Regions from separate parts of the Homo sapiens genome. Here regions 1 and 3 are each linked to region 2. The links come from fine-mapping of genetic effects on gene expression. A gene starts in region 2. Each other region holds a variant in brackets. All regions are shown on one strand. Distances are from middle to middle.

Region 1 (4,154 bases), 21 kb after region 2:
CTGTGCACAGGCCTGCTCACCGTGCGTGTGCGGGCAGAGCCTCCTGGGGAGGCAGAGGCCCCGCGTTCTGCACTCGAGTCTTGCGGGTGGACATGCATATGTCAGAGTGGAGGGCAGGCAGCGATATCTACTGGTTTGGCTTGGGTATTTTTTTTTTTTGAGATGGAGTCTCAGCTATGAAGATATAATAAGCTTGTTGGATGGCCCCTCCCATCACCTGGCAGTGGACCTGCGTTTAAGGAAGGCCTCAGCTGGGGTGGGCGCTGGTGGAGTGCAAGCCTTCCACACAGTCTCAAACGAGAGGCTGAGGGCAAACATCCACACCTGAAAAGATGCTGCCTTACATGCTGACAAACCACCTGCCATGTGCCAGGCGCTGTGCTGGGGACACAGGGGACACAGGACGTAAGGGCACAGAACAAGCTTGGGTAATGCTGTAGTGGGGAGCCAGGTCAGGCCGAGGTCCTGCAGTGGCAGAATTCAGAGAAGGGCTGGCACAGGGAGGGAGAGAGAGGAAGGAGCTGACCAGGGTCGAAGAGGGACCCTGTGGTCAGAAAGGGCCGGCGTCCTGATGCAACCAGGGCCTGGTGCGTGTGACTGCTCTGTGTGCAGAGCTAGCTTCGGAGAGGGCAATCAAGTGGTTTCCAGAAGGCAGGCAGAAGGTGCGGAGGGCGGGTGAGGGGTGGTGGGGGGCAGGACAGGCGGCATAGGTGGGTGAGGGGTGGTGGGGGGCAGGATGGGGGGCAGGACAGGCGGCATAGGTGGGTGGGGGGCAGGATGGGGGGCAGGACAGGCGGCGTAGGTGGGTGAGGGGCGGTGGAGGGCAGGACGTGGGGACAGAAATGTTGCCGGTCTCCAGCATCAGGAGGGTGTGTGCGGGCTGTGCTCAGATGATGGATGATGGCGGGAAAGCTGAGCGGATATAGGAGCTGTGGCCTGGGTGAGGTGGTGCACGTGACCCCGGGTGGCGCTACAGCAGCAGCCAGGGAGCGTGTGCCTGGGCATTCTCAGTTTAGCTGCGCTTCCCAGTTTCTTTTTTCTTTTGTATCTCGAGTTACTAAATTCCACAGGCTTCAAGCAACCATAGAGAGAATAAAGAAGTTGGCGAAATATTTAAAATGTGGATTTCCTGTTAATTTTGAGGATATAGCAGTCTGGGCATCTCTCTACTCCAATTTTGCTTTTATACGGAAAACTATAGTTCTCCTAGAAATAGAAACCCCGTTGGAGCAGGGCGCGGTGCTGCACACCAGCCACTCACGAGGATCCCTTGAACCCGGGAGGCTGAGGCTGCAGGGAGCTGTGATTGTGCCACCGCACTCCAGCCTGGGCGACAGAGCAAGACCTCGTCTCAAAACCAAACCAAGCAACAACAAAAAAGAAACCTTGTTAGGATTAGACTTGAGTTGTTTTTTCCAGCAGCAAAAGGGGTCAGTGAATGGAAGTGGAACGGCGCAGAGGGGAGTGAGCAACCGGGCCAGGAAGTCTGTGTCTCACGGAGCTGACCTTTCAGCCCTGAGGGAGAGCCACTGCCAAGGAGCTTTCCTGTGAATTCTGGAGGCTGCAGCCCAGCGAGCCCGACACGGTCGCCAGCATGTTTCCCAAGCTCATTTCTCGATACTCAGTTTGTGAGTCCCGGGAACTATCTAATAGGGCAACACAACTGGTGGGTGCAGAGGCCCTGCAGGCATCGGCATAGCTGCAGGGTCTGACGGATGCAGGCGCGTGCAATTCTCTATGTTGGCTACAACAGAATTATGGTTGAAAAAGAGGCCGGGCGCGGTGGCTCACGCCTGTAATCCCAGCACTTTGGGAGGCCGAGGTGGGCGGATCACGAGGTCAGGAGATCAAGACCATCCTGGCTAACACGGTGAAACCCCGTCTCTACTAAAAAATAAATAAATAAATACAAAAATTAGCTGGGCGTGGTGGCGGGAACCTGTAGTCCCAGCTACTTGGGAGGCTGAGGCAGGACAATTGCTTGAGCCCAGGAGGCGGAGGTTGCAGTGAGCCACGATCATGCCACTGCACTCCAGCTGGGCAACAGAGCAAGACTGTCTCAGAAAAGAAAAAAGAATGAGAAGAGAGGCTTCTGACAACAGCAGCACGACTCCTGTGAGAGCAGCCCTCCCCCTAATGACGACGGACACATGGAAAGGCACTGGGGGCAGCCGTGAGCAGGCTGATGCTGGGAGTGGGTGGCACTGGGCAGGCTTCCTGCTTCTCACAACTTTCTTTTTTTTTTTTTCTTTTTTGAGACGGAGTCT[T/C]GCTGTGTCGCCCAGGCTGGAGTGCAGTGGTGCGATCTCTGCTCACTGCAAGCTCCGCCTCCCGGGTTCACACCATTCTCCTGCCTCAGCCTCCCAAGTAGCTGGGACTACAGGCGCCCACCACCACACCCGGCTAATTTTTTGTATTTTTAGTAGAGACGGGGTTTCACCGTGTTAGCCAAGATGGTCTCCATCTCCTGACCTCATGATCTGCCCGCCTTGGCCTCCCAAAGTGCTGGGATTACAGGCGTGAGCCACTGCACCCGGCTGCTTCTCACAACTTTCTGCCTCAGGGTAGGCCCAAGTCAGGGCCAGTGTGGGCATCAGCCACCTCGAAGCCTGCCCTCTTCCAGGCTTAAAGAATCAGAATCAAGATTTTTGTTGGCCAGGTGCGGTACCTCACGCCTGTAATCCCAGCACTTTGGGAGGCCAAGGTGGGTGGATCACGAGGTCAGGAGATCGAGACCATCCTGGCTAACACGGTGAAACCCCGTCTCTACTAAAAATGCAAAAAAAATTAACTGGGCGTGGTGGCGGGCGCCTGTAGTCCCAGCTACTCGGGAGGCTGCAGCAGGAGAATGGCATGAACCAGGGAGGCGGAGCTTGCAGTGAGCCGAGATCACGCCACTGCACTCCAGCCTGGGCGATAGAGCGACACTCCATCTCAAATAAATAAATAAATAAATAAATAAAAGATTTTTGTTGACCACAGCAGCTGGAATGTGAAGGTGGAAACGTTGGGATGCAGCAGGCATAGAGGGGATCCCAAATCCTGAGCATATGCTGCCCTCGTCACTAGTTGCTCCCACACTACACATGAGGCAGGGGAGGTGCAGACTTTAAGCCAACTCACGCTACAAGCAGGGATTTCAGCTGCTATCCACCACAGGGGAAAGAGTTTCGGCTCTGAGCTGAGCAAAGGTGATTGCCTAATAAAATGAACCAAAAAAAAGCAATACTCTTTGGAGGAATGTAACAGAATCCAGAGTCTCTACAATGGATTATCCACAATGTCCATGATACAAAAAAATGACTAGACATAAGAAACAGGAAAATTTGACCCATACTCAAAAGGCAAGTAATGGAGATCAATCCTACATGACCCAGATATTGGAACCGGTAGCTAAGATTTTACAGCAGCAGTTACAACTCTGCTTTAGGATATAAATATAAAATATATTTTAAACAAATTAACAAATAGGGAATTTTAGCCAATAAATAATAAAAAGAACTAAGTGTAAATTCTAGGGCTGCAAAATACAAGCTCTAAAAAGATTGCTGGAGAGGTTAACAGCAGATTGAAGATAGCTAAAGAAAGTCTAGATAAATACAAATTAATCCAAAGGACAGAAAAAAAGAAAATAATGAGCAGTAATCACAAATGTGTGTCTACTAGATATGGAAGACCTAACATTTAATTGGAGTCCCAGAAGGAGAAAAAGAGCAAATTTCCCAAATTTGGCAAAACACAAATATAGATCCCAAAAGCCCAGGATAAATACAATGAAAACACCTAGGAACATCATTATCGCACTGCTGAAACACAAATTCAAGAAGAAAGTCATGACAGCAGCCAGTGCAGTGGGAGATGGAGAGACACATGACATGTAAGGGCCCCACAGACAGCCCATAGCTGACTCTTCCAGAAACAATGGAGGCCCAGACAGGGAAAACATTCAAGTGCTGAAAGGAAAAAAATCTGTCAAATCAGGATTTTTTTTGAATCAGGATCTTGCTTTGTCACCCAGGCTGGAGTGCAGTGGTGCTATCACAGCTCACTGCAGACTCAACCTCCTGGGCTCAAGCAGTCCTCCCACCTCAGCCTCCCAAGCAGCCAAGACTGCAGGTGCATGCCACCATGCCTTGCTATTTTTTTCAGAGATGGGG
Region 2 (4,140 bases):
GTGCTGGGTTTACTGGCGTGAGCCACTGAGCCTGCCTGATTTCCATTTAAAGTTGTGGGTCGGGGCAGGGTGTGGTGGCTCTCTCCTGTAATCCCAGCACTTTGTGAGGTCAAGGTGGGCAGATCACTTGAGTCCAGGAGATCGAGACCAGGCTGGGCAACATGGCAAAACCCCGTCTCTACTAAAATTACAAAAATCAGCCAGACGTGGTGGTGTGCACCTGCAGTCCCAGCTACTTGGAAGGCTAAGGCGGGAGGATCGCCTGAGCCGGGGAGAAGGAGGTTGCAGTGAGCTGAAATCGCGCCACTACACTCCAGCCTGGGTGACAGAGCAAAGAATAAAGACATTTTCAGACACACAAAGGCTTGAGAAATTTGTCCTCCAAGCACCCACTGTTGGATGCGGGGCTTCAGGAAAAGAAGGGAATAGGGAAGGACGGAGCTGCCGTGGGCACTGGCGAGGGCTGGAACCCAGCAGCGGACGGAGGAGGAGTTTCCGGGATGATGGGATGCTGCCTGCCCCATATCCCATCCATCAGCTCTGCCTGCAGAGACATGCCCTGAGTTCAGCTGCTTCTCTACACCCCCATTCCGCCCCAAGCTCATCCTCACAATGGCCACCTAGTCCCCTCGTCCGTGTCGCCCCCCTACCGTCTGCTCTCCTAACTGCACCAGCATGGACCCGTGCCTTCAATGGCTCCAGGAGATGCCTGCCACACAAGCAAAATCTTAGTCCCTGCGAGGGCCTTCTGTGGCCTGGCCCACTGCCTCACTCCCTCCAGGCCTCACCCCTGCATATGCCTCCCTCGGCTCCACCTCCCGGGCAACAGTTGCGGCCTCAGGCCTTTGCACCTGCCGTTTTCCTGCCAGTGAGACTCTTCCCTGGCTGTCAACACATTCAGGGCTCTGCTCTAAGGTGTTCTGTTCAGAGCTCTCACCTTACGTAAGACAGCACCCACTGCTCTCTGGCTCTTTTCTTTTTTTTTTTTTTTGGAGGAGTCTCGCTCTGTCACCCAGGCTGGAGTTCAATGGCACAATCTCCACTCATTGCAACCTCTGCCTCCTGGGTTCAAGCAATTCTCCTGCCTCAGCCTCCCAAGTAGCTGGGATCACAGACACATGCCACCACGCCCAACTAATTTTTGTATTACTATTATTATTATTATTATTCTTTTTTTAGGAGAGACGGGGTTTCACCATGTTGGCCAGGCTGGTCTCGAACTCCTGAGCTTGTGACCCACCCGTCTCGGCCTCCCTAAGTGCTGGGATTAGAGGTGTGAACCACTGTGCCCGGCCACTGGCTCTTATTTTCTTACCCTACCGGTTTTTTATTTTGATTCCTTTTTTTTTTTTGAAACAGGGTCTTGCTCTGTTGTCCAGGCTGGAGTGCAGTGGCAGTGAACATGGCTCACTGCAGCCTCAACCTCCCGGGCTCAAGCCATCCTCCCACCTCAGCCTCCTGAGTAGCTGGGATCACAGGCTCATGACACCGTGCCTGGCTAATTTTTAAATTTTTTGTAGAGACAGGGTCTCACTATTTTTCCCATTCTTGAACTTCTGGGTGCAAACGATTCTCCCACCTCAGCTTCCCAGTGCTGGAATTACCGGCGTGAGCCACCGGGCCCGGCCTCTGCCAGTTTTTCTGCTCGAGGCCTGTCACCTGGCATATTTCGTATGTACTTTATCTGTTCCCCCGATAGGTGAGCAGGAACTTTGCATCATTTGTTGCTCAGAAGGCTTGGTGCACCAAGCAGGCATTTAATCAATGTTTGTTGAATGGATAACTGTTCCCCAGCTTTTCCCACATCCATCACTGCTGAAATGGCGCCTCTTTAGGTGTCTTCCTGGATTGCCCCCTCCACAAAGATGAAGCCCCCCACACTCCGCTGCGGTGTACAGAAGGCACTGCATGTTGTAAATGTTCAGTGTCCGGCTGTCCAGCCTGGCGGCCACAGCCAAAGGTAGTACCGAGCCCTTGAGATGGGGCTAGTGCTGCAAGGGAACTGGACTTATTTAACTTCAGTTAATTTACAGAGCCACATGCGTCTAGCGCTTACCCTACTGGTCGCAGTTTTTATTCCACGACCCGGCCTCATTTACGGAGCTGCAATTGTTCAGATCTGACATGATCTCAACTGCTCTTTTACTTCCTTGTGTACCGTGCGTTTCCCTTACTGGCCTCTGACCCTTGAAAGCAGAGCCTTACATCCGGGGAAGACGAGCCAGGCCTGTCTTGGTAAACATCTGCCTTAGAGCGAACGCTCGGCGTTCTGGAGAGAATGTGGGACCCGAGGCGGAGGGAAGAGACGGCTGACATCACTCCAGGGTAGGGACGACCGAGATGGGAGAAACTAAGGCGAGAACCCACCACCCGGGCGCAGCGAACCCAGCTCGCAGCCACGTGGGGAAGCGCGGCCCTGCCCTCAGGCCCCGCCCCACTCACGCGTCAGGCCCCGCCCACCCCACCGCCCCCCGCTCCCGCGTCCAGGCTCCGCCCCGTCCCCGCGCAGCGCAGGCGCAGATGCGCCCTCCCGCCTGGCGTCCTCCGCAGATTCGCGCTGAGAGGCCCGCGGAGACCCGCCCCAGAGGCTCAAGAAAACCCGCGGGAGCCTCGCCCGGACCCAGGAACTCGTGCTCGGGGCCAACCGGCTGGGCCGCGATCGCGTTTCGTCCGGGGCCGCGGCGGCCGTGGGGAATCGGCTGCAGCGAATCGGTGGCGCGCGGCGCCTGAGCGCGCTGCAGTCACCCGGGAGCCGGGTCCAGGTCGGGTTGGGGGTCGGGGATCGGGGATCGGGGGTCCGGTTGGGTCGGGTTGGGCTCCAGGTCTGGTTGGGTCGGGTCCAGGTCGGGTAGGAGTCCGGTCGGGGTCCGGGTACAGGTCGGGGTCCGGGCCTGGATCGGGGGCGGGTCCGCGTGCGGCTCCTCTAGCCCCGAACCCGTGTTCCCCGTAAGCTGTTGGTTTCTAAGGGGCGGAGGAATGGCGACTGGAGCCACCTCTCACCGCTCAGGGAGCCGGGAGGGCCGGCAGCTCCCGCGGGCCGAGTTTCCCGCCTTGGGTGCGAGGACGCGTGGGGCCGCGCTGTGCCCGGGGAACACTCACCAGCATCTCTAGCCTCCACCTCCCTCTCGCGCCAGTGGCACTCCCGGTTGAGACAACTGAGAATGTTCCCTGGGCACAGTGGCCCGGGTTGAGAAGCCCTGCAGTGGCTGGTAGCGTTGGGGTCCGAGCGGAGGAGCGAACTCTGGGTGGAAACCGGCAGGCACTGGAGGGGAAGGAGGCGGGACAGGGTTGGGTGGGACCAGGGTTGAGGGGTGTGGGGTCTCGGGGCGCTCACCGAGGGGCTTCCTGAGCTTGTGTGGATTATTTCCGTGCCCCAAGCTGAGCCCTGTGTCCATGTCACAGGTCGTCTTCCCGTGACGCCCAGATCTGTCCTGCAGGATGGAGCCAGCACCCTCAGAGGTTCGACTCGCCGTCCGGGAAGCCATTCATGCCCTCTCGTCTTCGGAGGATGGCGGCCACATCTTCTGCACCCTGGAGTCCCTGAAGCGGTATCTCGGTGAGATGGAGCCTCCAGCGCTCCCGAGGGAGAAGGAGGAGTTTGCCTCGGCCCACTTCTCGCCTGTCCTCAGATGTCTTGCCAGCAGGCTGAGCCCAGCCTGGCTGGAGCTGCTGCCCCATGGCCGCCTGGAGGAGCTGTGGGCCAGCTTCTTCCTGGAGGGCCCGGCGGACCAAGCCTTCCTGGTGTTGATGGAGACCATCGAGGGTGCTGCGGGGTGAGTGGGCTGGGCCCATCCTGGGGTTGCCGGTAGCCTCAGAAGTGATGAGAGTGGCTTGAAGGACTGGACCAAGAGCCTCTCTAGTCCCTGTGAGGGGCTAGAGAGAGAGCCTGCTCCTGGCTGAACCCCTGAACAGAAGAAGCGGTCTGTGTCTGTCTCCTTTGCGACGGGAGGCACCTGCTGTGTCTCACAAAGTCCCCCACTTGCTCCCCGTCCGGCTGTGTCAGAGAGGGATGGGGTGGGAGTGTTCACATCCCAGGCGGCAGAGGCAGCCCGTCAGCTGGGGACGTTCCAGGTTTTCCAGGGAAGCACAGCTGTCATCACTGACACGTGTCCCATGTGGACTCCCAGCCCCAGCCGGCTC
Region 3 (4,154 bases), 26 kb after region 2:
GAAGCAGAGGAAAAAAGGAATAGAAGGGAACTTCGGCCAGGCGCGGTGGCTCACGCCTGTAATCCCAGCACTTTGGGAGGTGGAGGCGGGTGGATCACTTGAGGTCACGAGTTCAAGACCAGCCTGGCCAAATGGTGAAACCCCATCTCTACAGGCATGCTGATGCACACCTGTAGTCCCAGCTACTTGGGAGGCTGAGGCAGGAGAATGGCGTGAACCCAGGAGGCGGAGCTTGCAGTGAGCCGAGATCGCGCCACTGCGCTCCAGCCTGGGCAACAGAGTGAGACTCCGTCTCCAAAAAAAAAAAAAAAAAGTACAATAATAAGAAAACCCAATAAAATGATGAGAAGAGACTTGAAGCCTTCACAGAAGGTGTGTAAATGGATAATAAGCACATGAGAAGGAGCTGCACATCACTACTCATCCAGAAAATGTGAATTTAAACCTCAGCAAGGTACTGTTCACCCCCTAGGATGGCTACAGTTCGAAAGAATGATCAAATGTTGGTGGGGATGAGGAAAACGCTAGAACACTGCGGCTGAATAAGTGATTAGCTGGTCACTTTAAAGTGACTACACGCTGTCTCTAAAATTAAAAAATAAGCGACTAAAAAATGGAACACCATTTTCTTTTTTTGTGAAAATCCCTGAAAAAGAAATCGTGGTTATTCAGACTCGGGTACATGCAGACATTTCTTCACAAATAAAGTAAGTCTGTCGCTTTCCTGCGACACTGCTAGTAACAGCCAGTAACAGCGTGAGACTGTTACTTTTTGCTACCGACAGATTTTTTTTTTCTTTTGAGACAGGGTCTCGCTCTGTCACCCAGGCTGGAGTGCAGTGGCGCCATCAGATCTCACTGCAGCCTCAACCTCCTGGGCTCAAGGGATCCTCCCACCTCAGCCTCCCAAGCAGCTGGGACCCCAGGTGTGAGCCACCATGCCTGGCTAATTTTTCCCCTTTTTGTAGAGATGGGGTTTCACCATGTCGCCCAGGCTGCTCTTGAACTCCTGGGCTCAAGTCATTCTCCTGCCTCAGCCTCCCAAAGTGCTGGGATTACAGGAGTGAGCCGCCACACACAGCCTCAGTTTGAGCCGTTAAGCCTTCGTTTCAGGAGCCTTGTGTGGCGGGATGCTGCTAGTGAGCAGCACTCAGGCCTCACCGTCTGGTATTCCTCCTTCCGCACGTAGTGCTCCACCAGGAAGCCATAGACGTCCCCGATGCGGATGGTGCTGTCCAGGTCTGGTTCCTCCAGGAGCAGCTCACACTGCTTGATGGACTCCTTGGGGTCCTCTGTGTACGTCCTGCCGAGAGCAGAGATGAGGCCTGGGCCCCGAAGCCCTGAACACCTACTGCTATCAGAGGTCAGAGGAGACTCTTGGCCTGTAAGAGGAGCTCTCCGGAATGGCAGGAGGAAACTTTCTATGAAGTTAAATTCATTAATTCCTTAATTTGTTCATTCATAAATTAACTCATCCATGTAACATTCTTACTGATCACTTGAATGCTGGGTCCTATGCTTGGACTGAAGACCAAAGACTTCCGACCCCTAGTTCCTGCTCTATGGAACAGTCCAGAGGGGGCTAGAAACCTCTGCACAAAGCGTGACCCAGAGGGGATGTGGTGCATGTGGACAGGGTACACGGAGAGGCGCACGGCACCCCTTGCCCAAGGCCGCTGGGAAGAACCCTCCAAGCAGAGAGGCTGCCCGCACACAGGCTGCGTGTGTGACCTGGCGTGAGGGTCTGTGGCAGAGCAGGGTGTGTGGCCTGTGAGCTGGGGTGACACCAGGGAGGTGAGCCTGCTGGAACACAACATGGTCCAGGGCAGGTGACTGGAGCCGTGTGGAGCTCAGGCTCCCATGTCAGGAGGGTCCAGGGCCCATCTGGCCACCCACTGACTCGGCCATTCCAGACAGGCGCCTGGCCTGCCCTCTGACCCCTGGCCCATAGAAGGTTGCCCACCCTGGCCCTCACACGTCGTCTCCCCTCCACCCACGTCCTGTGCTATCCCTGATGACCAGCTGCTATCGATTCTCCTCCGCTCCTGCCCTGTGGCCTCAGCTCAGCAGACATCTGTGAGACGCTGATACCCCAGAATCGACACGTGCAGGTGGACCGTGCCCTTCCAAGGGGCACCGCTTTGTACGACCTTGTTCAAAGGACTTCTGGAACTCTTGTTTTGGAAAAGGTTCTCCGATAAGGAAAACAGCCCTGCCAGCTGAGACAGAAGCTGGGCCCTGAAGCGCACAGGCGAGTGCCCACCGTGGTGGCCACACAGCAGCTCTCTGAAAAGCTGAGTCACCTGCCCATAATAAAGATGGGGAGGTGTTCAAATAAACTTAGCATCT[T/C]GGCCTCTCCTGAAAACCGAGACCATCGGCTGGCTGCCTGGGTCTCCTCTCCACAAGCTTGGAGCTGGTGGCAGTTGACCTGTGGAGAGGCATGAGCCCTCTGGTCACCATGGTCCCCCAACCCCAGGTCACACAGCGGCACTCACTCAGGACTCCCCTGCCCGGCCCCTGCACACCCTCAGCAGGTCTGTGGCTCCCCAGACACACCCTCTCCTGCTCCACATCTGCCTCCTCCTCCCACTCCCCCACCAGGTTTCTCTCTCAGCGTCTCTGGTGTTTCCAGAACACCTTCCCAAGGCTGTGCCCGGGCTCTGAGGGCTCCCAGGAGGAGGTGGGGTGTGTCTTCAGCAGTAGTGCTGTCCCAAGTGAGCTCCCATCTGCTGTCCTGCCCTTTTGCTGGCTGGGGTTTCTCGTGGTCAGCCCCGGCCCTGTAGTCACATCTGCCCTGGCCTGTCCCCGCTGGCCCCGGGGGCACACCTGCGGGCCTGGATGAACCTCTTCACCAGTGCCATCCTGCTCTGCAGCTGCGCCAGCCTGGTCTCCTGGTCCAGGGGGCTCTTGGCCTTGGCCTTGGCCAGGCACTTGTAGGCCTCGGTCAGCGCCCCGTGGGCTTTGTCGTAGTTCTGGTATTCATCAATCTCCACCTGTACAGATGAAACCCGTCAAGACCTGCCGGGCTCCACAGCCCTCCCCGGGGCCCCGCTGGCATGCCAGGGAGGGCCTGCACCTGGGCACAAGCGTCATAAAAGCCAGCCAGGAGGTCCAGGGCCCGCCCCTTGGTGTAGAAGCCGATGATGTTCTTCATGATCTCCGGCTCCTTCCGCCAGTCCAGGGACTGCAGGTAGTTAGCAGCCATGATGTAGATTTCCTTCTGCCTGGACACGCTCGCGAAGAACGTGATTTTCTCCGTGTCTCCGGATTTGAGCAGCGCCCTCATGGCCTAGGCAGAGAGACAGCGGGGCTCAGGCAAGCAGGGGCTGGGCCGGGACAAGCACAAGGGACCCCGAGCAGGAGCTCTCACAAGAAGAGTGGCTCAGGGCTGCCCGGTAGAGAGAGATCTTAGTGGTTGTGCTCTTCCTGGCCAGAAAGGCTCAGCCCTAGCTTGGGGTCATCACGAAGGCAAATGGAGATGCGTGCAGGGGGCCCGCAGCCTAACTGCCTGTGAGGTAGCCGCGGGCTGGGGCCGGGAGAGGCTCACCTTCAGCTTGTTGCCGGCCTGCGTGTACTTCTTGGTGGCCAGGTGGTAGCTGCCCTGGCGCATGCAGCAGTCTGCTATCTGCTCCAGCAGCTCCCGCCGCGACTCCTCAGGCAGGTCCGAGGAGTCCTTGGCCACGGTCATCTTTTCCGCCATCTCCTCGGTGATGCTCATGTTCTGCCCCAGGCACAGCTGCAGGGCTTCCTGATACTGCAAAGGTGCAGAAATGGGACGGGGCTGCCGAGGGGGCCGGGAACTGAAGTGCGCCCCTCATCTGCCACCGCTTCAGAGGAAACCAGGCCCCTCGGCTCAGCGGCGGCTTCTGTCTAGCTGGGGTGGGTATGGAGGGGACAAGGATGTCTCCCCTGCCTCACCAACCTACAATCATTCACGTTACTTTCTCACGCTGTTAACATTCCAGAATGGAACGAAGGAAACAATAGTCTCAAGTGATATATGCTCAAGAGAATATTACGTTTGGGAGAAAAGGAAATTGGTAATTTTCTTCTATAATTCTGAATTTTTAAAGTTAAATTTTTGAGACAGGGTCTCACTCTGTCCCCCAGGCTGGAGTGCAGTGGTGCAGTCACGGCAGCCTCCACCTCCCCAG

Evidence for each region. PIP is the estimated chance that this variant, and not a neighbour inherited with it, causes the effect. A credible set is the group of variants that fine-mapping cannot tell apart.
Region 1: its variant is the best candidate, but not a certain one, in a credible set for the expression of TELO2 in nasal epithelium (TOPMed, PIP 0.75).
Region 3: its variant is the best candidate, but not a certain one, in a credible set for the expression of TELO2 in skin (TwinsUK, PIP 0.82).

Annotation. Positions count from the first base shown.
Region 1 is chr16:1,511,437-1,515,590 of GRCh38, forward strand. The region is part of intron 30 of IFT140 (intraflagellar transport 140); the gene reads right to left. Among named protein-coding and RNA genes, the nearest start is that of TMEM204, 20 kb to the right of the region's middle. The variant T/C (reference allele first, on the strand shown) is at 2,268.
Region 2 is chr16:1,490,844-1,494,983 of GRCh38, forward strand. It overlaps TELO2 (telomere maintenance 2), which reads left to right and starts at 2,517. Exons shown (of 21, transcript NM_016111.4): 1 at 2,517-2,762; 2 at 3,403-3,773. The coding sequence starts at 3,439. RefSeq lists enhancers at 2,175-2,224, 2,322-3,222, 4,124-4,140 and silencers at 2,435-2,524, 2,695-2,744, 2,755-2,954.
Region 3 is chr16:1,517,055-1,521,208 of GRCh38, forward strand. IFT140 (intraflagellar transport 140) reads right to left here. Exons shown (of 31, transcript NM_014714.4): 27 at 3,548-3,754; 28 at 3,077-3,289; 29 at 2,827-2,993; 30 at 1,162-1,303. Among named protein-coding and RNA genes, the nearest start is that of TMEM204, 15 kb to the right of the region's middle. The variant T/C (reference allele first, on the strand shown) is at 2,350.